Regions from separate parts of the Homo sapiens genome. Here all the other regions are linked to region 1. Evidence: fine-mapped expression QTL. A gene starts in region 1. Each other region holds a variant in brackets. All regions are shown on one strand. Distances are between the middles of the regions.

Evidence for each region.
Region 2: its variant is fine-mapped to the expression of PRKAR1B-AS1 in whole blood (TOPMed, PIP 0.98).
Region 3: its variant is fine-mapped to the expression of PRKAR1B-AS1 in whole blood (TOPMed, PIP above 0.99).

Annotation. Positions count from the first base shown.
Region 1 is chr7:598,466-606,636 of GRCh38, forward strand. PRKAR1B-AS1 (PRKAR1B antisense RNA 1) reads left to right here and starts at 4,380. Exons shown (of 2, transcript NR_110054.1): 1 at 4,380-4,832. PRKAR1B (protein kinase cAMP-dependent type I regulatory subunit beta) reads right to left here. Exons shown (of 11, transcript NM_001164760.2): 6 at 7,728-7,774. RefSeq lists silencers at 3,068-3,177, 3,918-3,977 and enhancers at 5,073-5,122, 5,183-5,868, 5,803-5,912, 6,183-6,542.
Region 2 is chr7:629,690-637,860 of GRCh38, forward strand. All of the region lies in intron 4 of PRKAR1B (protein kinase cAMP-dependent type I regulatory subunit beta), which reads right to left. Among named protein-coding and RNA genes, the nearest start is that of PRKAR1B-AS1, 31 kb to the left of the region's middle. The variant C/A (reference allele first, on the strand shown) is at 4,907.
Region 3 is chr7:645,894-654,064 of GRCh38, forward strand. All of the region lies in intron 4 of PRKAR1B (protein kinase cAMP-dependent type I regulatory subunit beta), which reads right to left. Among named protein-coding and RNA genes, the nearest start is that of PRKAR1B-AS1, 47 kb to the left of the region's middle. RefSeq lists an enhancer at 5,446-6,645. The variant C/T (reference allele first, on the strand shown) is at 3,622.

The DNA.
Region 1 (8,171 bases):
TCCCTCCAGCACCCTCCACACTAAACACCATCACCCTCCAGCACCCTCCACACTAAACACCATCACCCTCCAGCACCCTCCACACTAGATACCATCACCCTCCAGCACCCTCCGCACCAAACACCATCACCCTCCACACTAAACATCATCACCCTCCCTCCAGCACCCTCCGCACTAAACACTATCACCCTCCCTCCAGCACCCTCTGCACTTCTGTTCCGATGCAGGGGCCTCTTGCTGAGCCACGAAAGCAGTGTGGACTCAGAAGATGTGAATCTGAGGTCGGGAGGGGTTTGCTTGACATGGGAGAGCCAGGGAGGCGGGTAACATCTTGTGCCCAAGGAGGTGAGTGAGCCTCTTGGCCCCTTCAGGGAATGAGGACACCACCCCCTCGAATGGCTGCCCAGGCAAGTGGCAGGACATCCCCCTGCCTTGGCAAAGAGGATGGGGGCTCTGGGAGCAGAGAAGGGTGAGTCTCCACAGAGCCAGCCCGGGACGGCCGCACCTCCCAGCTTTCTGGGATTCTGTCTCAAAGCGGGGATCCGTGGCTGCTGCCGCTGCAGGCAGGACCCAGGGAAGCTGGACCAGGACGCGCTGCCCATGAGGCCTGGAGAAGCCCAAGGCCTCCGAGAGCTCCCTCCGCAGCCTCAGAGGAAGCCATTGTGCGGGTCCCACAGACGGCCAGGGCCACACTGTGCTCGGCCGCCCGGAGGACAAAGGGGCCATCCTTCTCAGGACACTGGCCACTGTCACCACTCCCGGCGCAGTGCGGGCCCCACCCCAGCTGGTACGCAAAGGGGCTACTTCTTGTTGTGTTTCATTTTTTTGTTTTCTCTCTTTTTTTTTTTTGAGATGGAGTTTCGCTCTTGTTCCTCAGGCTGGAGTGCAATGGTGCGATCTCGGCTCACCGCAACCTCTGCCTCCCAGGTTCAAGCGATTCTCCCGCCTCAGCCTCCCGGATTACAGGCAACTGCCACCACGCCCGGCTAATTTTGTATTTTTAGTAGAGACGGGGTTTCTCCATGTTGGTCAGGCTGGTCTCAAACTCCTGACCTCAGGTGATCCACCCACCTCGGCCTCCCAAAGTGCTGGGATTACAGGCGTGAGCCACCACGCCCAGCTTCTCTTCTTTTAAAAGAAAAAACAATGGGGGTCCCCCGCGGGGCAGCATTTACACCCCACCATCACTGCAGCTTCTCTGGCGCCGAGCTCACACCTGGCTCTGCCCTGCCCCCTGCCCACCTTCACTCGCTCACCCTCTGTGTTTAGAAGTCAATGGTGGGACAGAGGTGCCAGGAGCTGGGGGAGGCACATGGGCAGGCCCCCCATTCACCTTCACTCGCTCACCCTCTGTGTTTAGAAGTCAATGGTGGGACAGGGGTGCCAGGAGCTGGGGGAGGCACACGGGCAGGCCCCCCATTCACCTTCACTCGCTCACCCTCTGTGTTTAGAAGTCAATGGTGGGACAGGGGTGCCAAGAGCTGGGGGAGGCGCACGGGCAGGCCCCCCATTCACCTTCACTCGCTCACCCTCTGTGTTTAGAAGTCAATGGTGGGACAGGGGTGCCAGGAGCTGGGGGAGGCGCATGGGCAGGGAGTGTGTAATGTGGACAGAGCTTCAGTTTAAGAAGACAAGAACATTTGGGAAATGGACAGTGGTGACGGTTGTAAAACAACGTGAATATTCTTAATGCCACCGAACTGCACAAAATGGTTAGAATGGTCAGTGTGGTGTGTCTTTTACTACAATTAAAGTAGGGCCGAGGGCAGTGGCTCATACCTGTCATCACAGCACTTTGGGAAGCCCAGGCGGGAGGATTGCTTGAAGCCAGGAGTCTGAGACCAGCCTGGGCAACACAGCAAGACCCCGTCTCTATGAAAAACTTTAAAATTAGCTGGACGTGGTGGTGCACAGTGGTAGTCCCAGCTTCTCGGGAGGATCGCTTGAGCCCAGGAGTTCAAGGCTGCAATGAGCTATGATCACGCCACCGCACTCCCAGCCTGGGCGACAGAGCGAGACCCCATCTCAAAAAATTAAAAAACGAATTTTAAAAACACACAGAACACAAGACACAACCTGAATAACATCTGATCAGATCACCAAGCTGAGGCGCCCTGCTCCGGGGTACACCCAGCTGCCTGGCGGTGCTCCCCAGCCCCCCAGAAAGAGCTCTTCCCCCAGACGTGTTGTGTGAAACCGAGGGAAGCCCGGAACGGCCAGCGTCAGTGGGGACGTCGTGATGCCTGGGACGGGGAGCAAAAAGAGGGAGTCGGGATAACGGGCCCAAAAACAATCAGGGGAAGAGTCGAGCCCCAAACAGGGCTTGGAAGGGAGCTACGTTCCCAGGCCTGCAAAGTCAGCAGCTGAGTGTCCTTTTAAATAGAAATGCTATGTTCCATGAATAAAATACATTGGAAGATATTTTTATACTTAGAAAAATGGATTATAGCTCTTGGCAACACACGGACGGCAGCAGGCACTTTCGGAGTCTCTGGAAAACCGTAATTCAAACTGAACCTGGTGCTCTTGGCATTTTGTCACCTGGCCGTCCCCCTGGACGCTGCTGGTCAGAGGGCAGCGTCCACCCTGCAGAAGTGGGTGACGTCCACCTCCAAGCTCTGCTGGCTTAAAGGGCCAGGGCCAGGTCCTTGAGGGGACGGCTTCCTGATGGGCCTCCGGCACTTGGCCAGCGCAGTTAAATACCCACGGCAAACGGCCGTCCCTTCCCGCCACGCAGAATAAAACCAGGGAAAACCGCTAGCCTCAGAAACCCACTCGGACCCTGGGTAGCCGTAGTCCTGCAGCCCCGAACCCAGGGTACATCCATCCCATTGCCCCAGGGAGGCGATTTACAGAAACCAGCAAACAACATGCAGCACCCAGGGTTCACACAGCAGCTGGATGGGGCTGCCTGGGGCTGCCATGCGGCCGTTCCCCCGGGTGCTGTAATAACAGTAATTATTATAATACATATGCCCATAACTCACCCGGGCTACCCAACATGCCACTTTTTCATTCCAGATTCCTTACTGAGCATCCTTTGATTCCCTTAAATGTGGCCTTCACCCACACGGGCCCTGCGGATTTACCCTGCATGCGAAGGGCCTCCCACATCACAGGAGGGCCCCTGCAGGCAGCTCCTGCGCCCGGCCCCGCCCGGCCCCGCCGGGCACTCCCTGACGCCCACCCCTGCCCTGGCTGGAAAATCTGAAGTTGATGGAGGTGCTTGGTGTTCGTGCACAGCCGCCTGGGACTCACGGGACAGCCCCATAAGTCACAGCCGGTTCCCGCAGGGGGCCCGGCCATCCCACGTGAGCCTGTAGCCAGGAAGTGGGCATCCACCCACGGGGCTCAGACATCCTGGCTCTGGAGGGCCGGGTCCAGCAGAGGCCTTAAAGCTGCCTTTGTGCCTGACCCGGGGGGGCTGGGGAGGGGTAGGGACGGGCAGGGGGAGGCGCAGGGACGGGCAGGGGGATGGGGAGGGGGAAGGGGAGGGATTTGCCAGGACAATATATTTGGGGAACTCCAGTTACACGAGGGTGACCTCACTCTTTCCTTTCTCAAAATTGCCTCCCAACGTCCCCGGGCCTGGCGAGAAGCCAGGCAGGACGCCACGACGCGTCGTGTCTGAGAGAAAACCGTCTCCCCTCCACTCAGGCTTCAGCCCCGACCCCACGCTAACTGGGCCAGGGCAGGGGCTGGGCTGGGAGGGGACCCAGTGAGCTCAGGGCTGGAGGAAACGGTCCCTGCTTTGAAGTGGCTCCGGCACCGGCCTCTCCCACCACCCTGTCATGTATGAAGGAGTTACAGACGGCGGCGGGGGGAGGGGGGGTCTGTCCTGCTGGAAGGACGGAGGGAAGGGAGATGCCTCACTGAGTCCAGAGGTCGAGGGGTGGGTGGGGATTCTGCGAGGATGAGGAGGAGGAGGAGGAGGTCCCGCCAAGGTCAGCCGGGGCAGCAACACCTCCCGGCCCCTTTGCCGAGGTCCTGGCCCAGGTGGGGCTCCCGGGAGCCTGGAGGCCAACGGCGGAAAGACAGGGACCTGATCCCTCCAGCAGTCCCAGCCGCCGGCCCCTCACACCCTCACCTCTCCCAGGAAGTCCTCAGCATGCTGCCGGCTGGGGCCTGGCGCTGGGGCAGGAGGGTGGCCACCCGCGCTGAAGATGAGGACAAGCCCGGGGCGTGGGTGGTGGGCGTTTCCTCTGTGGGGTGGACGAGGCTCTTGCGGTGCGTGTGTTGGGGACATGAGACGGGGCGGGGCAGCTGCCAGGCGGCCAATGGCTTCCACACCAGGGGCCAAGAGCAGAACCCCAGGAGGGTTATCTCAGTCTTCCCGGCAGCAGTGAGCTCTGTTCGTTTTTCTGAGTAATATGGAAATGGCACGGCTCAGCCACACAAGGGCCTGGGCAAAGGTCACGGCCAGCAAAGAACACAGCCTGGGTCCTCTGAGTCCCGAGTCCACGCGATCCTGACCCGTCCACCACCCTCCTCGAGACACGACAAGTTAGGCGGGAACATAACCTGGGAGCCCCATGTCGGTTTCAGGCTCCACAAGGGATCTCTGGGTAAAGGGTTTGTCTCTTCCACATCTGTTCATTTAGGAGAAGCAAAGAACATGGAAAGCAGAATTCCTGGGGGTGGCCTCAACCCCAAGCCCTGCCGATGCAAACCGGCACCTTGAAGATGCCTTTGGAATTTAACTGGAAGATTTGAATGACATGGGCAGACACAGAAGAGGGAGAAGCATTCCACAGGGGAGGAAAGGCCTCAGTGGGGACCTATGGAGCTCCCAGGCCCACCGCAGGGAGGCAGGTCCTCGGTCATCTGCGGAGGTCAGTATCTATCAAAGCCCAGCCGCAGATAGATGAGCTGGGCCTGGCGGGGTCTTGTAGGATGTGTAGGAGTTTGTGAGGCAGAGCAGGAATGAAAGCAGAGGGGACAGGAGGGGCAGAACCAGAGTCAGGACATTCATTGGCTAATTTCCTGTTCTTGGTCCCTCTCCCCCATTAAGCCACAACCTCCCCCACACCAGAGCAGGCACCAGGTCCTCCTCGTCACAAGTGCCAGGCATAAAGCAGGCACTCAATAAACATCCAGGAAGGAGACGGCAGGGGAGGAGGCGACATGATGACTCCAGGACCCAGAGTGGAGGTGATGGGGGAGGAGGTGACACCAGGACCCAGAGTGGAGAGGGCAGGGGAGGAGGTGACACGGTGACACCAGGACCCAGAGTGGAGGGGATGGGGGAGGAGGTGACACCAGGATCCAGAGTGGAGAGGGTGGGGGAGGAGGTGACACCAGGACCCAGAGTGGAGGGGATGGGGGAGGAGGTGACACCAGGACCCAGAGTGGAGAGGGCGGGGGAGGAGGTGACATGGTGACACCAGGACCCAGAATGGACAGGGCGGGGGAGGAGGTGACACGGTGACACCAGGACCCAGAGTGTGAACTAGAAGAGGGGCTATAAGTAGTAGCATGAGATTTGGGGCTGGGATAAAGCGGTGGGTCCAGTCAGGAAGCTGCCCATCCCATACCTCCCGCAGAGGTGGCTCTGCCTTCAGCACTGCTGACCACTGGGCAGGCCTGGGCTGCCAGGGTCTCTCTGGGATCAGCCCTGCCCCATCTGCTGGGGGCTGAGCCCCATTCCCTGCAGCCCCCCATCAGGCCCTGGTGTCTGGATACCAGGCACAACGGGGCCACCTCCTGGGACGGGCCCAGGCCCCAAGACGATGCCCGGCTGGGATGCTGGCCGCATCCTCCTCTGTCTTCTCTATTTCCTGGGCTAGGCTTTTTTTAAACTCGAAGCAAAGCCAGCAGGAGATGACTCTGCGGCCTGGCAGCTGAGCCCAGGGTTGACCCGCCAGTGCCGCCCTCCAGCCTTCCCCCTCCACACTTCCTCTGAGGCCGGGCAGTACCCGGGACCTTTGGCACCTGCCTCAGTTTCCATCTCTAGGGGAGACAGGAGCACCCCCACTCCCTGACACAAAGGTCTGCCCCAGAGGCCCTGTCTAGGGGCCCAGCCCGTGGGTTCCGGCTCAGGACAGAGCACACCAGGGAGAAGAGAAACTGGCTCTTTCTCCGCCTGCGCGGGCCAGGCCCGAGGCACGTGCCCCCCACGGGGAGGCGGGACCCCTGAGTCATTTCCTGTGCTATCAGCTCCGGAAGCAGAGTGGGCCTGCTCAGGTTCCCAGAAACACAGCGCGATGGGGGACAGACTCCGCGGCTGCCACGGAAACAAATGAGTAAATGCCCTCCCCAGAATAGCGTGGCCGGGACAGAGGCACAGCCACCGGAGGCCAGACCTCGAAATAGCTCGTGCTGGGCAGCCGGGGGTGGCGTTGCCTGCACGGAAGAGTGCGGAGGCCACCTCCTGGGGCAGGTGGACAAGGAGAAGGGCAGGCGGACAAGGAGAAGGGCAGGCAGGCATCCCAGACCCAGAGAAGACTCAGCCAGCCTGGGAAGCAGTGACCGTCTCGGGTAGCAGAATCCCCAAAGCGTCCTGCACTGTGGGGGCTTCCAGTCTGTGTGCAGAAAGGCCGTAAAGAGACGGTCTCATGAGATGTCATCACCACGAGCCGCAGAGGGTCCTACGAGGGAGGCGTGGGACATGTCTGCTGATGCCCACTGGGAAGTGACATTTAGCAGAGAGCAGAAGGAGAAGCAGGAGCTAACGGGGTTCCCGGCAGAGCAGGGGACACACACCAAGGCCCTGGGGCCGCCAGTGCAGGCGGATTCCAGGAACCGAGGGAGGATGATGTCACTGAGGTCCTTCCCGCTGACTCCGCAGGGGCTCGGGCCTGATTCAAAGGGAAACAAACTCCTAGCGGGCGTTTTCCCAGAGGCTGCACCATCAGCTCCGCACCAGCAAGGTCAGGCTGCCGTGCGGGGGGCGGCCTGCAGAACAGGAGCCCAGCGGGGGATGAGGGGGCCTCAAAGCCTTCACACCAGAGCACCCAGGCTCTAAACCGGACGGCAGAAGAGATGGGAGCCAGAGGCTCTGGGCAAGACTGGGCTGCGGGGCCAGGGGTGATGTCATGTGCCGTGTGTATGTGTTTATTTACTTAGTTTTATACATATATGTATCTATTTTATACATACACATACACATGGCCTGGCCATCGGGCACGAGACGGGGTCTCCAGCGGAGGGGAAGCTTCTCCTTCCAAAACAGTGGGAGCATCTCATAAAAGATGCTCTTGAGACAAGCGTGGGAAGATGACACAGTGAGACCCGACTCACGGCTGGGACGTTCCAAGCTGGGAGCCAAACGCAGGCGCAAAAGGCAGCCGTTGTTTGATCGTGAAGTCGTCGGTCCTAGGGGGTCTCTAAGCACGTCGCTCTCCCACCCACTTTGAGATGTTAACATCCCATGTGGTGGGTGAGCCTGGTGTATTCATCGGCCTCGGATCTGGAGACGGCGCTGGGTCAAACAGAACCGCCCTGGCCAGCCCCAGCAGTCGCAGCCCGGGGGCAAGCGGAAGACAGCGGCCCTGGAAAACCTGAGGCCGCTGCCGGCACCTGCCAGCATCACCCTTGTTTCCCTCTGCACTTTCTCATATTCCCATATTCTCTTCCAAGAGATAGCAGTTGCATTTCTGGATTAAAACACTAGGAATACGGCACTCAGCGCAGTGTTTGTTGGGGGCCTGGTGCTGCCTGGAGGGCAAGTCTTCACACCGGACATGCAAAGACGCGCTATTTTCCAAAGACAAGTTAGCGACACTCACATCCACTTCCCCTTGATCAACGACATAGAAGTTGTCTCCTTCATTCCCTGTAACAAAAGAAGAAAGTCAACAGATACAAAGTACATCCAGACATACAAGTTACAGTTTCTCTTGCAAACGACTTTCGCAACACTGTTGCAGAGACCCTCGAAGCAACATCCTGGGTGCTACCAATTCTTTTTAATGACAAGATTATACAAACATTGAGATAACTTGTTAAAGAGCCTGTTCTTAAGTTTCATTAGTGAACTTTCTCTAAACAATGAGAGGTGTTTTTCTTTTTGTTTGTTTTTTGTTTTTTTTGAGACGGAGTCAGGCTCTCGGCTCACTGCAACCTCCACCTCCCAGGTTCAAGCGATTCTCCTGCCTCAGCCTCTGGAGTACCTGGGATTACAGGCACCTGCCACCACGCCCAGCTAATTTTTTTGTAGTTTTAGTAGAGAT
Region 2 (8,171 bases), 31 kb after region 1:
CCAAGGCTGGAAAACGCTGCAGGAGCGGGGCCACGGCCTCCGAGGGCGCCACCACCCCAGGGCTGGAAAACGCTGCAGGAGCGGGGCCACGGCCTCCGAGGGCGTCACCACCCCAGGGCTGGAAAACGCTGCAGGAGCGGGGCCACGGCCTCCCAGGGCGCCACCACCCCAGGGCTGGAAAACGCTGCAGGAGCAGGGCCACGGCCTCCCAGGGCGCCACCACCCCAGGGCTGGAAAACGCTGCAGGAGCGGGGCCACGGCCTCCCAGGGCGCCACCACCCCAGGGCTGGAAAACGCTGCAGGAGCGGGGCCACGGCCTCCCAGGGCGCCACCACCCCAGGGCTGGAAAACGCTGCAGGAGCGGGACCACGGCCTCCCAGGGCTCTGTGGGCTGCAATACTTGTTTTCTTTCCACGGCTGCTGCTTCAAAGCACAGGCCGGGCCTTGGAAGTGGAGCGCAGTGGAAGAGCCAGGCACACCCCCACCTCCCCCTTCCAGGACCAGGGCACTTGAAAGGTGTGGAGGGGGCTGGGCCAGGCCAGGCGAAGGTGACCGTGGCTCCTAGCAGGTGAGCAGCTGAGATGTACCTGAGGGCTCGGCCAGCCCCATCGGAGAGGCAAACCCCCAGGCAGGTGGTCCTGTTGTCAAAACTGGCCGGCCGGGAGCTGGAAAACAGGCCCAAACTGCGCCTGTGCTGGCAGGTGGCAGGCAGGCAGCGGGCAGCGGTTGGGGTCCTGGCTGGGGGTGCAAGGTCAGCCTGCATCTGAGGCCTGTGGGTACCCAGGGGGTGGCCTATCCCATTGCCCTGGGGGTCCCACGGCTCCCTGTACAAACTCAGATGCACTTGATTTTGTTATTATTGTTTTAATTTGGTCTGAACCTTTGTTCTAAGTGAAGAGACATAGCTTTCCAAAGGCCATACGGGTGAGGCTGGCCCCGGGGGGATCAAATGCCTCCCTCCTGGCCTCACTGCCAGGCTCATGTTAAAGACGCCCAGGGGATGTGCCATAGGCACTGCATCACCAAAGCTGGAGGCTCCCTCAGGACCAGGGAGACAGACAGGGATTGCAAACTCAGCCACCCCCAGGCCCAGTCAGGTGCAGGGATGGGGAGCACACCCCCCCCACCATCTCCAGGGAGCACCATCACCCAGGTGGAGCAGGGCCCACACGTGTGACCTTCCAGCTTTCAGATAAGATGGAAACTCAGAAGCTCCCTGACCATCGCCTGGTTTCAACAGAGGGCTTGCAGCTGATTCGGATTTTTTTTTTTTTTTTTTTAAAGACAGAGTCTTGCTCTGTCACCCAGGCTGGAGTGCAGTGGCACAATCTTGGCTCACTGCAACCTCCACCTCCTGGTTCAAGCGATTTTCCTGCCTCAGCCTCCCGAGTAACTGGGATTACAGGCACCCTCACCAATCCCGGGTAATTTTTGTATTTTTAGTAGAGACAAGGTTTCACCATGTTGGCCAAGCTGGTCTCAAACTCCTGACCTCAAGTGATCCGCCCACCTTGAACTCCCAAAGTGTTGGGATGACAGGCGTGAGCCGCCGTGCCAGCTTGATTCAAACTGGTTTTCAAGAGCAGTTGTTCAAACAGCAAGATGGAAGTTGACAGTGGCCAGGTGTGGACAGCGGCCCACCTCTCGCCATGTCATGCCATAGACCTTACAGATACGGCACCCTCAGGCCCAGACAGGGGTGGTCGCCGGCCCAAAGCCACTCAGCACCTAACCTGGGATGACTCAGGAAGGAAAACAGGCAGAAGCCGGTCACCTTGGCCAGGCCAGTTCCAGGGTCAGCCAGCACCCAGACAGAAGCCAGTCTCACAGCCCAGCACACACAGCCCGAGGGGGAGAAAACACGGCCCCACAAAGGTGCTGCGTGGAAAAGCCGGGGCACGGTGTGCAGGCCCACCACGCAAACCCAGCCCACTGTCCTCCGAGCACACTGGGGATCCTGTGAGACTCCAAAAGAAGGCGGATGCCAGACGCGGTGCCTCATGCCTGTCATCCCCGCACTTTGGGAGTCCGAGGAGAGGTTCGCTTGAGCCCAGGAGTTCCAGACCAGCCTGGCCAACATAGAGAGACCCCCATCTCTAAAAAAAAAAAAATTGGAAATTAGCCAGGCATGATGCCATGCACCTGTAGTCCCAGCTACTCGGGAGGCTGAGGTGGGAGGATTGCTTGAGCCCAGGAGATTGAGGCTGCATAGAGCTGTGATGGCACCACTGCCCTCCAGCCTGAGCGACACAGCAAGACCCTGTCTCAAAAAAAAAAGCAGCGGGAGGAGAGCACCTTGTGTCCCGATCTAGAAAAATCTCCAAGAGAAACCGTAAAGAGAAAAAGGCAACTGGCACAGCTGTGTGTAGCCCCCAGGAAGACCGAGCTCACGTGTGAGCCAGCGTCTCCGTGTGACCCTCCTGCGCACACGCAACAGAGCCTGGGGGGAGCAGGTGCTGGCCAAGGTCTGTTATCTCTCTCTGCCTTGTCTGTGTGAACCCTGTGTCTCTGTTGCCTCATTAAAAATCATTCCTTTTAAACACTGTGAAATTCTGCCAGACGCCCAGCAGCTCGGCCCCTGCAGAAGGGCGCACATCTTCTCAACCTCAAGGGGCGTGGAGACCACCCACCTCGCCGAAGCCGGCACCGGCTTCGCAGAGACCCGGACTCGAGACGAATCCTCCTGCTGCTGTCTCTCCCATCCACTGCCCCCCAACACAGCCCCCCGAGCCGCAGGCTCCACCGGGGGGGTCTTCCCACTGCCCCTGGCTCAGCTCAGGACGGCCACTGCGTCTGAAGACCACCAGTGTCCCCGCTGCCGGGTCATGGCACTGGTACTCCCAGGAGCCATTCTCTTCTGTGGGGATTCCCTTGTTCCGAGCACACTGGGTGGGGCTGCCTTGGTACAGATGGATCCAGGCCTTCAGGACACTGCGGCCCTCATGATGCTGCTGCGTGTCTGCTCTGCAGGGCACAGGGCGAGGCTGAGCTCACTCCGGTTCATCCTCACACAGAAATGCCACGGAGGCTGCACTCTCTACCGGATGTTCCTGAGCCCCCGGCACTGCCAGCCACACGTGATACAAGCTACAGAGCCATCAGGAGGATTCCGTGGGCCACACCCGCAACAGGTCTGGGACTCTACGGGGCTGTGTGCCCAGCCACAGCCTCAAGGAGCCCCCGACGGCCGGCACCCGTCAGCCCTCCTGAGCCTGGGGCCACACAGTGCCTGTCCGGGAAGCAGACACCAGGTCCCGGCCGGCTCCGGCAAGCCTCCACTTTCTCCTCTAAATCACGGGCAGAGGGAAGCCAGGCGCGCGGGTCGTAGTGAGATCAGCTAGATGGAGTCATGTCGTGCCGACGCCATGCGTGTGAATTCATTCTCTGCTCCCACCACTGCTCCGACTCTGGAATACGCTCAGAAACAAACCCTTCACGCTGTCAAAATCCTCCCCCAGATATCGCTATAAACAGCAAAGACGTGATCTCCAGGACATGATGTCAAATGAAAAACACCAAGTGGAGAAAAGTGTGTCTCGTGTGCAAACATCTATCTAACACAGGCAGGAGGGGCCGTGACTCCATGTGCGTATTTGCTTATTTAAACCACACATAGGCAAATCGACACAGAAAATATTAAGATAGTCACCCACAGGTGAAAGGAAGGGGCTCTGTGCACAGGAGACGGGACCCAGGAAGGCGGCAAGACTTCTGTAATATCCCACGACTTGGGAGCCATATTAGTATTTCATGTAATTATACAAACCAAATTCAGATTTAAAAAGTAATACAGGCTGGGCATGGTGGCTTACACCTGTAGTCCCAACATTTTGGGAGGCCGAGGCGGGAGGATCACTTCAGGCCAGGAGTTCAAGACCAGCCGGGGCAATACAGCAAGACCCCATCTCTACAAAAAATTTCAAAATTAGCTGGGTGTGGTGGTGCATGCCTGTGGTCCTGATTTTATTGAGCTCAGACTCTGTGCTTAATAAGGCAGCTGAATGCTGGGACGCAGGTTGGGCCCGCCTGGCCTCCCAGGTTCCTGAGGTGATTTAAAGGAGCTGCCCACCTTGGAAAAAGTCGGGGAGGGGAGCAGCGAGGACACAGCTCCTGTTCACGGCCTTCCCAGCAAAAGTAAGGAGGCTGTGTGTAATCACGGGAAACAGGCAGACCCAAGACCTTGTAAACCACCTGCCTGGGCTCCTCAGGGATTTGGACCAGGCACAGTGGCTCACACCTGTAATCGCAGCACTTTGGGAGACTGAGGCAGGGGAACTGCTTGAGCCCAGGAGTTTGGGCAACATAATGAGACCCCATCTGTACAAGAAAAAATAAATAAATTTTGTTTTTTTAAAGGGAGTCTAGTTCTGCCTCCCAGGCTGCAGTGCAATGGTGTGATCTCAGCTCACTGCAACCTCTGCCTCCCAGGTTCACGCCATTCTCCTGCCTCAGCCTCCCCAGTAGCTAGGATTACAGGCGCCTGCCACCATGCCCGGCTAATTTTTGTATTTTTAGTAGAGACGGGGTTTCAAATGTGTTGGCCAGGCTGGTCTCGAACTCCTGACCTTGTGATCCGCCCGCCTCAGCCTCCCAAAGTGCTGGGATTACAGGCGTGAGCCACTGCACCCGGCCCAAAAAAAAACATTTTTCAACTTAGCCAGGTGCAGTGGCTCAGCTACTCGGGAGGCTAAGGCGGGAGGATCACTTGAGCCCAGCAGGTTGGGGATGCAGTGAGCTGTGATCTCATGACTGCACTCCAGCCTGGGCAACAGAGCAAGACCCTGTCTCCAAAAAAAAAGAACTGGGACAGAGTTTGAATTTGGGTGGGGGTCAGCTCAGCTCAGGGTGCTGCGTGCAGGGTGAGCGCTGTGCCTGTGATGATTTTCCTGCTTGTTCTTAGGAGACA[C/A]CCAGTGAAGCATTTAAGGCGTGGGGTCCTGGTGTCTGCAACTTACTGTTTTTTTTTTTTTTAAGGTGGAGTCTCGCTCTTTCACCCAGGCTAGAGTGCAATGGAGCGATCTTGGCTCACTGCAACCCCTGCCTTCAGGGTTCCAGTGATTCCCCTGCCTCAGCCTCCCGAGTAGCTGGGATTACAGGCACCCGCCACCATGTCTGGCTAATTTTTGTGTTTTTAGTAGAGTCGGGGTTTCACCACGTTGGCCAGGCTGGTTTCGAACTCCTGACCTCAAGCGATCCGCCCACCTCAGCCTCCCAAAGTGCTGGGATCACAGGTGTGAGCCACCGCACCCAGCCTGCAACTTACTCTCAAATGATCCAAATAATAAAAAGAGTAAAAATAACAGTATGCGAATGTAGAACACAGAACTGATGAAGCAAATGCAGCACAAATACGTCCCAAAATGCTGAGTGGCAAAGGGTACACAGGGCTTCATGATACTCTCCTTGCAACGTTTCTGTGTGAACTATTTTCAAGGTAAAATTTAAAACAATAAATAAAATTAGGAGATTTCACCAAAAAACCGGACTTCCAGCTTCTCTGGAAAAATCAAGATCTGACACCCTGGGACCCACATTCCACAGGCTGGAAACCAGCTGAGCAGGGGTCCCTGTGGGCCCCAAGGCCCAGCCCTCCCCTGGCAGCTTCCACATCTCAGGACCAGACTGGCCCTGAATGTTCCGGATCTGGGCCAGATGTCATGTTCGCGCCCAGGCAGACTGTGGCATCGCTGCTCTGAAAACAGGGGTCAGAGCAGCAGGCCTGGGCCACAGAGCCTCAGAAGGATCGGAGTGGACGGCAACCTGCCTGCACCCCCCTGGGGCTCAGGGAGCGTCCCCAACACTGACTCCACAGTCCTCTCCTGGCAGACGCACAGCTGGGACCCGAGGGCCCCTTGGCAGCCCTAGGCCTCTCCCCAGGGCACTGGAACCCAGGCCTGGAGCCCGGAAGGCTCGGGACTCCTCCGCTGCCTCCCAGGCCCTCCCAGACTATCCTGTGAACAGCTTAGGAAAAAGGGCTTCTCCCTCCATGATGGCTGCAGGACGGTCTTTGAGCAGGGGAGAGAAGGCACAGCGAGGGAGACGGGGAAGCCTCAGGTTTTCTGGAGCTCAGTGCAAAGGTAAGGAGGTGAATGAGCTTTGGAGGCAGGAGTTGGTCCAAATCACAGCTCCGACACTTACTAGCTGGATGATTTCAGCAGGCCACTTAATCGCCAGGCCTCAGTTTCCCCATCTGTGAAACAGAGCTACGGACAGCAGGTTCACGAAGCATTGTAAAAGTACCAGCACCGCGCCCACACATCCTCCACCGGCCGCGCCCTCACGTCCTCCACCGGCCGCGCCCTCACGTCCTCCACCGGCCGCGCCCTCACGTCCTCCACCGGCCGCGCCCACACGTCCTCCACCGGCCGCGCCCACACGTCCTCCACCGGCCGCGCCCTCACGTCCTCCACCGGCCGCGCCCTCACGTCCTCCACCGGCCGCGCCCACACGTCCTCCACCGGCCGCGCCCTCACGTCCTCCACCGGCCGCGCCCACACGTCCTCCACCGGCCGCGCCCTCACGTCCTCCACCGGCCGCGCCCACACGTCCTCCACCGGCCGCGCCCTCACGTCCTCCACCGGCCGCGCCCTCACGTCCTCCACCGGCCGCGCCCTCACGTCCTCCACCGGCCGCGCCCACACGTCCTCCACCGGCCGCGCCCACACGTCCTCCACCGGCCGCGCCCACACGTCCTCCACCGGCCGCGCCCTCACGTCCTCCACCGGCCGCGCCCACACGTCCTCCACCGGCCGCGCCCTCACGTCCTCCACCGGACTGTGCCCACTGTGCCCACCGGATGCTGGGGCTCCTTCACCAGGGGTGGGGGGTTTCCTGCCAGCCCTGCCAATGAGGGCTGGTCCTGGGGCCCCTCCTGCCCCACCCAGAATGGTCCTTTCTGACAGCCAATGCTCTGCCTCTCTCAACTGCTGGAACACAGTGACCCCAGGTGGCCAGCACCTCCCCAGCCCGTGGCCACTGTGAGGACAGCAGCTCAGACAGAAGCATTTCCACCCTCACAGAGGCTGTGCTGTAGAAGCCTGCTGGGGAGGGGGCCGGCGGGACCTGACGGGTCGGGTCCATCTCTCTGTCTCTGCACCTGCACGCCCCTCCCTCCTGGGTGAGGAATGGGTATCACACGCCAAACTCCCTGCTATCAAGAGCAGCTCCCAGGTGTCTGCAACTTCCTCAACAACTGTGACCCCGCAAACCACGGCGAGTGGGAAAGAACGGCCGTGAGGGAAGGGGCCAGGTGCTGAAGGTGGGGGGTGGGGAGTGCCGGGACAGGCCAAGCTCCAGGACCAGTCAGAAACCTTGAAGGAGGTGAGGTGTGGTGGTTCACACCTAATCCCAGCACTTTGGGAGGCTAAGGCGGGTGGACGGTTTGAGCTCAGGACTTTGAGACCAGCCTGGGCCACACCGCGAAACCCCATCTCTACAAAAACATACAAAAATTAGCCGGGCGTGGTGGTGCACACCTGTAGTCCCGGCTCCTCGGGAGGCTGAGGTGGGAGGATCGCTTGAGCTTCGGAGGCAGAGGTCTAGCCTACATGGTGAAATCCCGTCTCTAACTAAAAATACAAAAATTAGCTGGGCATGGTGGCGCACCTGTAATCCCAGCTACTTGGGAGGCTGAGGCGGGAGAATCGCTTGAACCAGGGAGGTGGAGATTGCAATGAGCCGAGATTGCGCCACTGCACTCCAGCCTGGGTGAAGGAGTAAGACTCTGTCTCAAAAAAACAAACAAACAAATCATGTTTATTAAAATGCTTTATACAGTCTTTAAACCTAAGGAAAAAATAAAATGTTCATTTCCTGATATTTGTAAATCTTCAGTGCACCTTTAAAAGAATCAAGAGCAAATAATGGGCCGGGTGCGGTGGCTCACGCCTGTGATCCCAGCACTTTGGGAGGCCGAGGTGGGTGGATCACCTGAGGTCAGGAGATCGAGACCAGCCTGGCCAACATAGTGAAACTCCGTCTCTACTAAAAATACAAAAAATTAGCCGGGTGTGGTGGCAGGTGCCTGTAATCCCAGCTACTGAGGAGGCTGAGGCAGCAGAATCGCTTGAACCTGAGGTGGAGGTTGCAGTGAGCCGAGATCGCACCACTGCACTCCAGCCTGGGGGACAAGAGAGAGACTCCATCTAAAAAAATAAATAAATAAATAAATAACA
Region 3 (8,171 bases), 47 kb after region 1:
TCTGGTCCCTGTTTTCAGAGCAGTGATGCCAGGGTACCCGGAAAGGGCAGGAGCTGACAGCAAAGTCCAAGTGTGCACCTGACCCCACGAGGCCCACAGCTGAGATTCCGGCTCCTTCGTCACCAACATGTTGCTCAGTAACCCCAACTGCACGCTATTTTTTTTTTTAAGAGGCAGAGTCTTGCTCTGCCTCCCAGGTTGAAGTGCAGTGGTGCAATCATAGCTCACTGAAACCTCAACCTCCTGGGCTCAAGCAATCCTCCTACCTCGGCCTCCCAAGTAGCTGGGACCACAGGTGCACCACCATGCTCAGCTGATTTTTGAATCTACTGTAGAGACAGGGTCTTCCTATGTTCCCCAGGCTGGTCTCAAACTCCTGGATTCAAGCGATCCTCCCGCCTTGGTCTCCCAAAGTGCTGGGATTACAGGCGTGAGCCACCGCGCCTGGCCTGAGTGCTACGTTTTAAGAGAACAATTTCAGTGATTCTAGAAGGACGGTGCATAAATTCTAAACCTGGGGAAATCCAAATTCATGAACTTTTCTGCTTCTGCAATTCCAAGTGCCAAGCAGCTCGATGGTGGGGCAGGAAGACACAGAAAATGGTTCCTCCTTCTTCTTGGCCCCGAGCTAATGACAGCTCTGGAGTAACTGAAAGAAGAGCGGAGCTCGTTTCCTAATGGGGCTGCGTGCAGAATCATGGCTATTTCCACACAATTAAACCTTGTTTCCCATAAAAACATCACTTAGAAATGGCTTCACGCTTCTCCCTCTGAACCCCTGAACTCACAATGAGATGCATGAAATCACACGATGATGAAATGGCTCAGAGTGCTCAGCATCCTACGACGGGGCCGCTACTGCACAGGTAATTAAGACTAAGCCATGTTAACCAAACTAAATTAAAACCAAGATTTAAATGCTTAAATTGGCCATCCGCCCGATCATAACAGGAAGAGGGTCCAAATCCAAAAAGGCCATTAGCTGAGCTCACACCCGGCAGGATCACAGGCGAAGGGCCCTGGGCTGAGGGCGGCAGCGGTACACCTGGCAGGGAGCCGGGGGCCCTGGCAGGGGTGACACTGCCCCCCACTCCTGGCCCAGGCTGCTCAGCTTCCACAAAAGTGAAACACCAAAGGGGCCACCCAGAGGTGGGGAAGAAAGGGGCATGGGACGCAACATGGCCGGCCAGAGCCACACAGCCGACCACCTGTCCCCTCTCTCCCACGTCCTACAGGGCGCCCAAACTCTTGTGGCCAAAACCAGCCTGCCTGCCCACCTCCTCCGGGGTTGGGGGCACCAGCAACCCCCAACCTGCGGATCAGCCTTCCTCACTCCCGTTCTCACCCTCCCATGTCAGGTCCTCAGCAAAACCCGTTGGTCTAACCAAGGGCCATCACCCAGTCTGTCCACTGTCCCGTCTCCAGCCCACCCAAGCCAGCATCACCTGTGGCTGGGACAACTCTCCTGGCCTCTCCTGCTGCCCCGTAGCCTCCTCGTCCTCTCCCATCCATGCCCCCTCTATGATCCCAACACCCCCCAGCAGCTCCCACTCCGTCCGGTCTTTAATCCCATAACCATGAATAACCACCCATTTGCTATCCAAAGAGTTTTCTTAAAACACGTACCTCCAGGCCAGGCGCGGTGGCTCATGCCTGTAATCCCAGCACTTTGGGGGGCCGAGACAAGTGGATCACAAGGTCAGGAGATCGAGACCATCCTGGCTAACACAGTGAAACCCCGTCTCTACTAAAAATACAAAAAATTAGCCGGGCGAGGTGGCAGGCGCCTGTAGTCCCAGCTACTCAGGAGGCTGAGGCAGGAGAATGGCATGAACCTGGGGGGGCAGAGCCTGCAGTGAGCCGAGATCGCACCACTGCACTCCAGCCTGGGCAACAACGAGACTTCGTCTCCAAAAAAAAAAAAAAAAAAAAAAAAAACCTCCTCGCATGTTGTTTTTCAGTTAGCACCTAAAATGCTTCATTATGGCCGGGCATGGTGGCTCACACCTGTAATCCGGTGCTTTGAGACGCTGCTTGAGGCCAGAAGTTTGCGACCAGCTCGAGCAACACATCAAGACCCCAGCTCTACAAAAAATTTAAAAATTAGCCGGGTGTGGTGGTGCGCACCTGTGGTCCCAGGTACTTGGGAGGCTGAGGTGGGAGGATTGCTTGAGGCTGGGAGGTTGAGGCTGCAGTGAGCTATGATCACACCACTGAACTCCAGCCTGGGCCACATATCGAGACTCTACCTCCAAAATTAAAAAAAAAAAAATCTTAAACTACGTACCTCTTCACTTGTTTTTAAGTTAGCATCTATAATGTTTCATTACAAGTTTAGGTAGTTGCAAAAAGGAGTAATTTCTGGCCTATTGTGAAAGTTGGTATTTTAACTGCCCTTCTCTCTTTTAAACATAGCCAATGAAATATAAACCCATAGGCAGGGCATGGTGGCTCACGTCTGTCATCCCAGCACTGTGGGAGGCTGAGGCAGGCAGATCACCTGAGGTCAGGAGTTTGAGACCAGCCTGGCCAACATGGCAAAACTCCATCTCTACAAAAATACAAAAATTAGCTGGGCATGGTGGTGCGTGCCCGTAATCCCAGCTAGTCAGGAGGCTGAGGCGGGAGAATCACTTGAACCCAGGAGGCGGAGGTTGCAGTGAGCCGAGATCACGCCACCGCACTCCAGCCTGGACAACAGAGTGAGACTCCGTCTCAAAAAAACAAACAAACAAAAAAATTAGCCAGGCGTGGTGGCAGTGCCTGTAATCCCAGCTACTCAGGAAGCTGAGGCAGAAGAGTCACTTGAACCCAGAAGGCAGAGGTTGCAGTGAGCTAAGACTGCACCATTGCACTCCAGCCTGGGTGACAAGAGTAAGACTCCATCTGAAAAAATAAATAAATAAATAAATGAAATATAAACCCATAGGGATTGGACACTCACCAAAACAAGATATCACGGAGAAAATTTAAGAACTTTTAACATTTGGCCAGGCACGGTGGCTCACACCTGTAATCCCAGCACTTTGGGAGGCCGAGGCAGGTGGATCGCCTGAGGTCAGGGGTTCAAGGCCAGCCTAGCCAACCTGGTAAAACCTGGTCTCTGCTAAAAATACAAAAATTAGCCTGGCATGGTGGCGGGTACCTGTAATCTCAGCTACTCGGGAGGCTGAGGCAGGAGCATCATTTGAATCTGGGAGGTGGAGGTTGCAGTGAGCTGAGATCGTGCCACTGCACTCCAGCCTGGGTGACAGAGTGAGACTCCGTCTCAAAATAAATAAATAAATAAAAATTTAAAAGCTTTTAACATTTAGAATGTTTCCACTGCTCCTTTTCTCCTCGAATGAGTATTTCTAGCCCATTTCCCACAGAATTTATCCCAATGTAAAAATGTTTTAATTTAAAACGTATCTTAATATTTTTTGATCTCCCTATCATGCTTCCTTGTAAAAGACGCGTTGAATGTTTGGAATTATTTTCCCTGTGAACACAAGGTTATAAGCATCATATTTTTCTTCAGGATTTCTTTTTAGTGTTAGCAGACAGTTAACTAAACGTTTATACATTAACATTTTTGGTAAGTAATTATTCAATTGAAGAAGTAAAGCTATTTTCGAAATA[C/T]ATCATTTAGTGTGTTTTATATTTACACTGATTTATATGTAGCGCCTTATTTATTTATTTATTTATTTATTTTTATTTTTTGAGACAGGGTCTTGCTCTGTTGTCCAGGCTGGATTGCAGTGACGACCCTGGGTCACTGCAGCCTCCAACTCCCAGACCCAAGCGATCCTCCCATCTCAGCCTCCTGAATAGCTGCATGAGCCACCAGGCCTGGCTAATTTTTTGTTCTTTGCAGAGATTAGTGTCTTGCTATGTTGCCCAGGCTGCTCTCAAAGTCCTGGACTGAAGCGATCCCCCCATCTCAGCTTCCTGAGTAGCTGGGACCACAGGCAAGCACCACCACACCTGGCTAATTTTCTGTTTTTTTGTAGAGCTTGAGGTCTTGCTATGCTGCCCAGGCTATGTTCACGTGATCCTCCTGCCTCAGCCTCCTGAGTAGCTGCATGAGCCACCAGGCCCAGCTAATTTTTTTTTTTTTTTTTTGTAGAGATTAGGGTCTTGCTATGCGGCCCAGGCTGGTCTCAAACTCCTATGCTCAAGTGATCCTCCTGCCTCAGCCTCCTAGAGCTCTGGGATTACAGGCATCAGCCATCATGCCCAGCCTGTAGTGCCTTGTTTATAAGAAGCATCTGGCCATGCCGTTGTGAGGTGACTGCAATCTGTGCAGGCAGGACCCAGGTGTGTGAGTGAGTGTGCCTTCTCTGATGAAGAGGACAGGTGGCCTCAATGGCAGTTCTGAGAATGCAGACCTGGGACTGTGGACCCTGTCTGAGGGACCCTAGAGGGTCTGCATCCCAAGGGTCTGTGTGCCCTGCTGGAAAACCACAGCCCCCAGAGCCACTGCCACCCCAACTCAGCCCCTCCCTCCCTCCCTGCTCACTCCACCTGATCAGTTCCAACCACGAAAGGCTCTTTCCAGCCCTCCAGCCTTCACACCGGCTGCACCTCCGAACCTCCAGCTCTGGGCTGCAAACACCCCCTCCTCTGGGAGTCATTCCTGGCTCTGGTGCCCTCACCCACTGCCTGCCTGGTGCACTTCTGGCACAGCCTCCCGCCCCTGCACACGTCCCGCCATTGCCACCCGAACAGCGTGGGGCACCTGTGGAATGGAGGCGCAATGGCGGTGGGTGGGGGCTCTGCCTGGGGACAGCCCCTTTTCTGCCTTTGACTGCGCCAACTTCAAGGACAGAGGGAACAGGCCTGAAGCTCAGAGAGGTCATGTCATTTGCAAAGGTCACGTGGCCCACAGGCAGCTCAGAGACGTCACGTCATTTGCCAAGGTCACGTGGCCAGCAGGCAGCAGGCTGGGACCGAGCCCAGAGGCGTCTGAGGCAAAGCTGCTGCCTCCCTCCCTGCCCGTGCTGGCGGATGCCTGCGGGACTCATCCTGGAGCACCCCTGGCTCACCGGCCACCGAGAGCCCTGACTCAGCTTCTTCTGTGCAGCAAAACAGTCCTAAGCATCATCACCTCTCTGGACCAGGAAGCTCAGAGGCACAGAGGCTAGTCCAAGCCATTCAAGCCCTGCTGCCTTCTGGAAGCTTCCCCGGGTTCCTGCTTTGGTGCTGAAACTCCTTCAGGTCTGGAATTTGGGGGCTGCTCAAGAGCAGGTGCCAAATCTACTCTGCCCTGTCTCTGCCTCCTACAGGCACCCAGACAGGACCCAGCATACAGCCAGGCTCCTAGGGGCCTCTGGCCCTCAAGTCCGCAGGGACCTGCCATGAGGGGTGATTGCAAGGGGCAAACCAGGCTGTGCATGTAGCATGCCTATAGGGACGTGTGCCATGGAGGAAGCATGATCCATGTTGACTGACAAAGCCAGCCTGAAAATTCATACGAGTTCCATGTTCCTCGGAAAGGACCCCGAAACACATGATGCCTTACAGAGCTCTTCCACGAGGCTTTAGCAATCTCTGACTCCCAGGGCCCTGTGTTATTTATCACACAGACTTCACGTGTCAACAAAACACTCCCACTAGGAACCTGGGAAACCCCCTGTCAGAAGACAGTTCACACCCGTGCAGCGCTAGGAACCTGGGAAACCCCCTGTCAGAAGACAGTTCACACCCACACAGTGCTAGGAACCTGGGAAACCCCCTGTCAGAAGACAGTTCACACCCACACAGCGCTAGGAACCTGGGGAAACCCCTCTCGGAACACAGTTCACACCCACACAGCGCTAGGAACCTGGGGAAACCCCTCTCGGAAGACAGTTCACACCCACACGGAGCTAGGAACCTGGGGAAACCCCTCTCGGAACACAGTTCACACCCACACAGCGCTAGGAACCTGGGGAAACCCCTCTCGGAAGACAGTTCACACCCACACGGAGCTAGGAACCTGGGGAAACCCCTCTCGGAAGACAGTTCACACCCACACAACGCTAGGAACCTGGGGAAACCCCTCTCGGAACACAGTTCACACCCACACAGCGCTAGGAACCTGGGGAAACCCCTCTCGGAAGACAGTTCACACCCACACGGAGCTAGGAACCTGGGGAAACCCCTCTCGGAACACAGTTCACACCCACACAACGCTAGGAACCTGGGGAAACCCCTCTCGGAACACAGTTCACACCCACACAGCGCTAGGAACCTGGGGAAACCCCTCTCGGAAGACAGTTCACACCCACACAGTGCTAGGAACCTGGGAAAACCCCTCTCGGAACACAGTTCACACCCGCACAGCGCTAGGAACCTGGGGAAACCCCTCTCGGAACACAGTTCACACCCACACAGCGCTAGGAACCTGGGAAAACCCCTCTCGGAAGACAGTTCACACCCACGCAGCGCTAGGAACCTGGGGAAACCCCTCTCGGAACACAGTTCACACCCACACAGAGCTAGGAACCTGGGGAAACCCCTCTCGGAAGACAGTTCACACCCGTGCAGCACTAGGAACCTGGGGAAACCCCTCTCGGAAGACAGTTCACACCCACGCAGCGCTAGGAACCTGGGGAAACCCCTCTCGGAAGACAGTTCACACCCACACAGTGCTAGGAACCTGGGGAAACCCCTCTCGGAAGAAAGTTCATACCCACGCAGTGCTAGGAACCTGGGGAAACCCCTCTTGGAAGACAGTTCACGCTCACACAGGAGACTATTTTGTAAATCTGGAGGTTCTGCCCTAGGGACTGGCAGTCCAGGCTCACCATTTGTGATGTGGGAGTGTCTCGTTTTCCCAGCTTGCTGTCCAGGGTCGCTGGAAGGGATAGAGATTTGGAGCCAGAGACAATTCCCAACCCATTCAATAAGGATTTCTTGGCTCCAATAACTGGTACTCGGGTATTTTGGTTATTTATTGTTACATAACAAACCACCTCAAACAGAGTGCCTTGACAAAAAAATTCACTCTTCCTCATGGTTCTGTGGGTTGATGGGGCAGGCCTCCTCCCTCCCATGGTGTTGGCTGGGATGGCTGATTTCCACACAGGGTGGTTGGTGGTGGCCACCGGCCTGGCACTCAGGGATGCCACTGGCCAGGAGTCCCAGCTCCACCCCCAGGAGTCCCTCCACATGACTGCTTGGGCTTCCCCACTGCATGGTGGCTGGGCGCCAAGAAGGACCCGCTCCCAGTGGACAAGTGCTTCTCCAGCCTCTCCTGGCATCACACTTGCTAATGTACCATTGGCCAAACCCAGCCACACAGCCAGGCCCAGAGCCAACGCAGAAGGAACTACACAAGTGGGGAGCCAGGCCAGTGTCTGAGGCTCTTTGGGGGCCACCAATGTCAAGTACACCATAGGGAACCTTGGGGTGGGTTGAATTCAGGAATTCAACGAGGCCTTCAAAGACCCAGGTTCTGTCCATTTCTGTACTTTGCAGCAGCAGCCTCTTCCCAACACTGCCTCCCAAGCTTCCCATTCACCCACCTCATCGTTCAGAAGGAAAGTGAGGGCTGGCTTCCAGAAGTGTAGTTATCCCCAGGGAGCAAGGTCCCTTTCCCAGAAGCCTTTAGTAAACTCTCTTTGCTTCTCATGGGACCACTGCTAAGCAAGGCCACCTGGCCACTGGACAGGGGCCTCAGGAACTGTCCTGAGCTGGTTGGCTTAGTCTTGGGTTACCTGATCCAGTCACAGTCGTTGATGGATGGACTCATCCAGAATGGGCTAAAATAAGGGCTACTCCAAAAGCTCATGGTAGATTCAATCCCCTCCCAAACCACATGGTGCTACATAGCTGGGGAGGGGTGGGAATAATGGAGAATCAACTCCAACATCCATTGCAGATGATTTCTAGGAAAGCACAACAAGAGGCCAAATGGGTTATATACACTTAATGTGGTGTTATAACTAGTGCTCATCACCCTTATTACCATGATAATTATCATCATCACTATCACCATCATCACCAACATCACCATCATCACCTTCATCACCATCACTACCATCATCACCATCACCTTCACCATCACCACCACTATCTTCATCTCCATCACCATCATCACCATCATCATCCCTTCATGATCATCATCATTGCCGTCTTCATCACCATCTCTATCTTCACCACCGTCACCATCATCATCACCATCCTTATCACTTCACAATCACCAT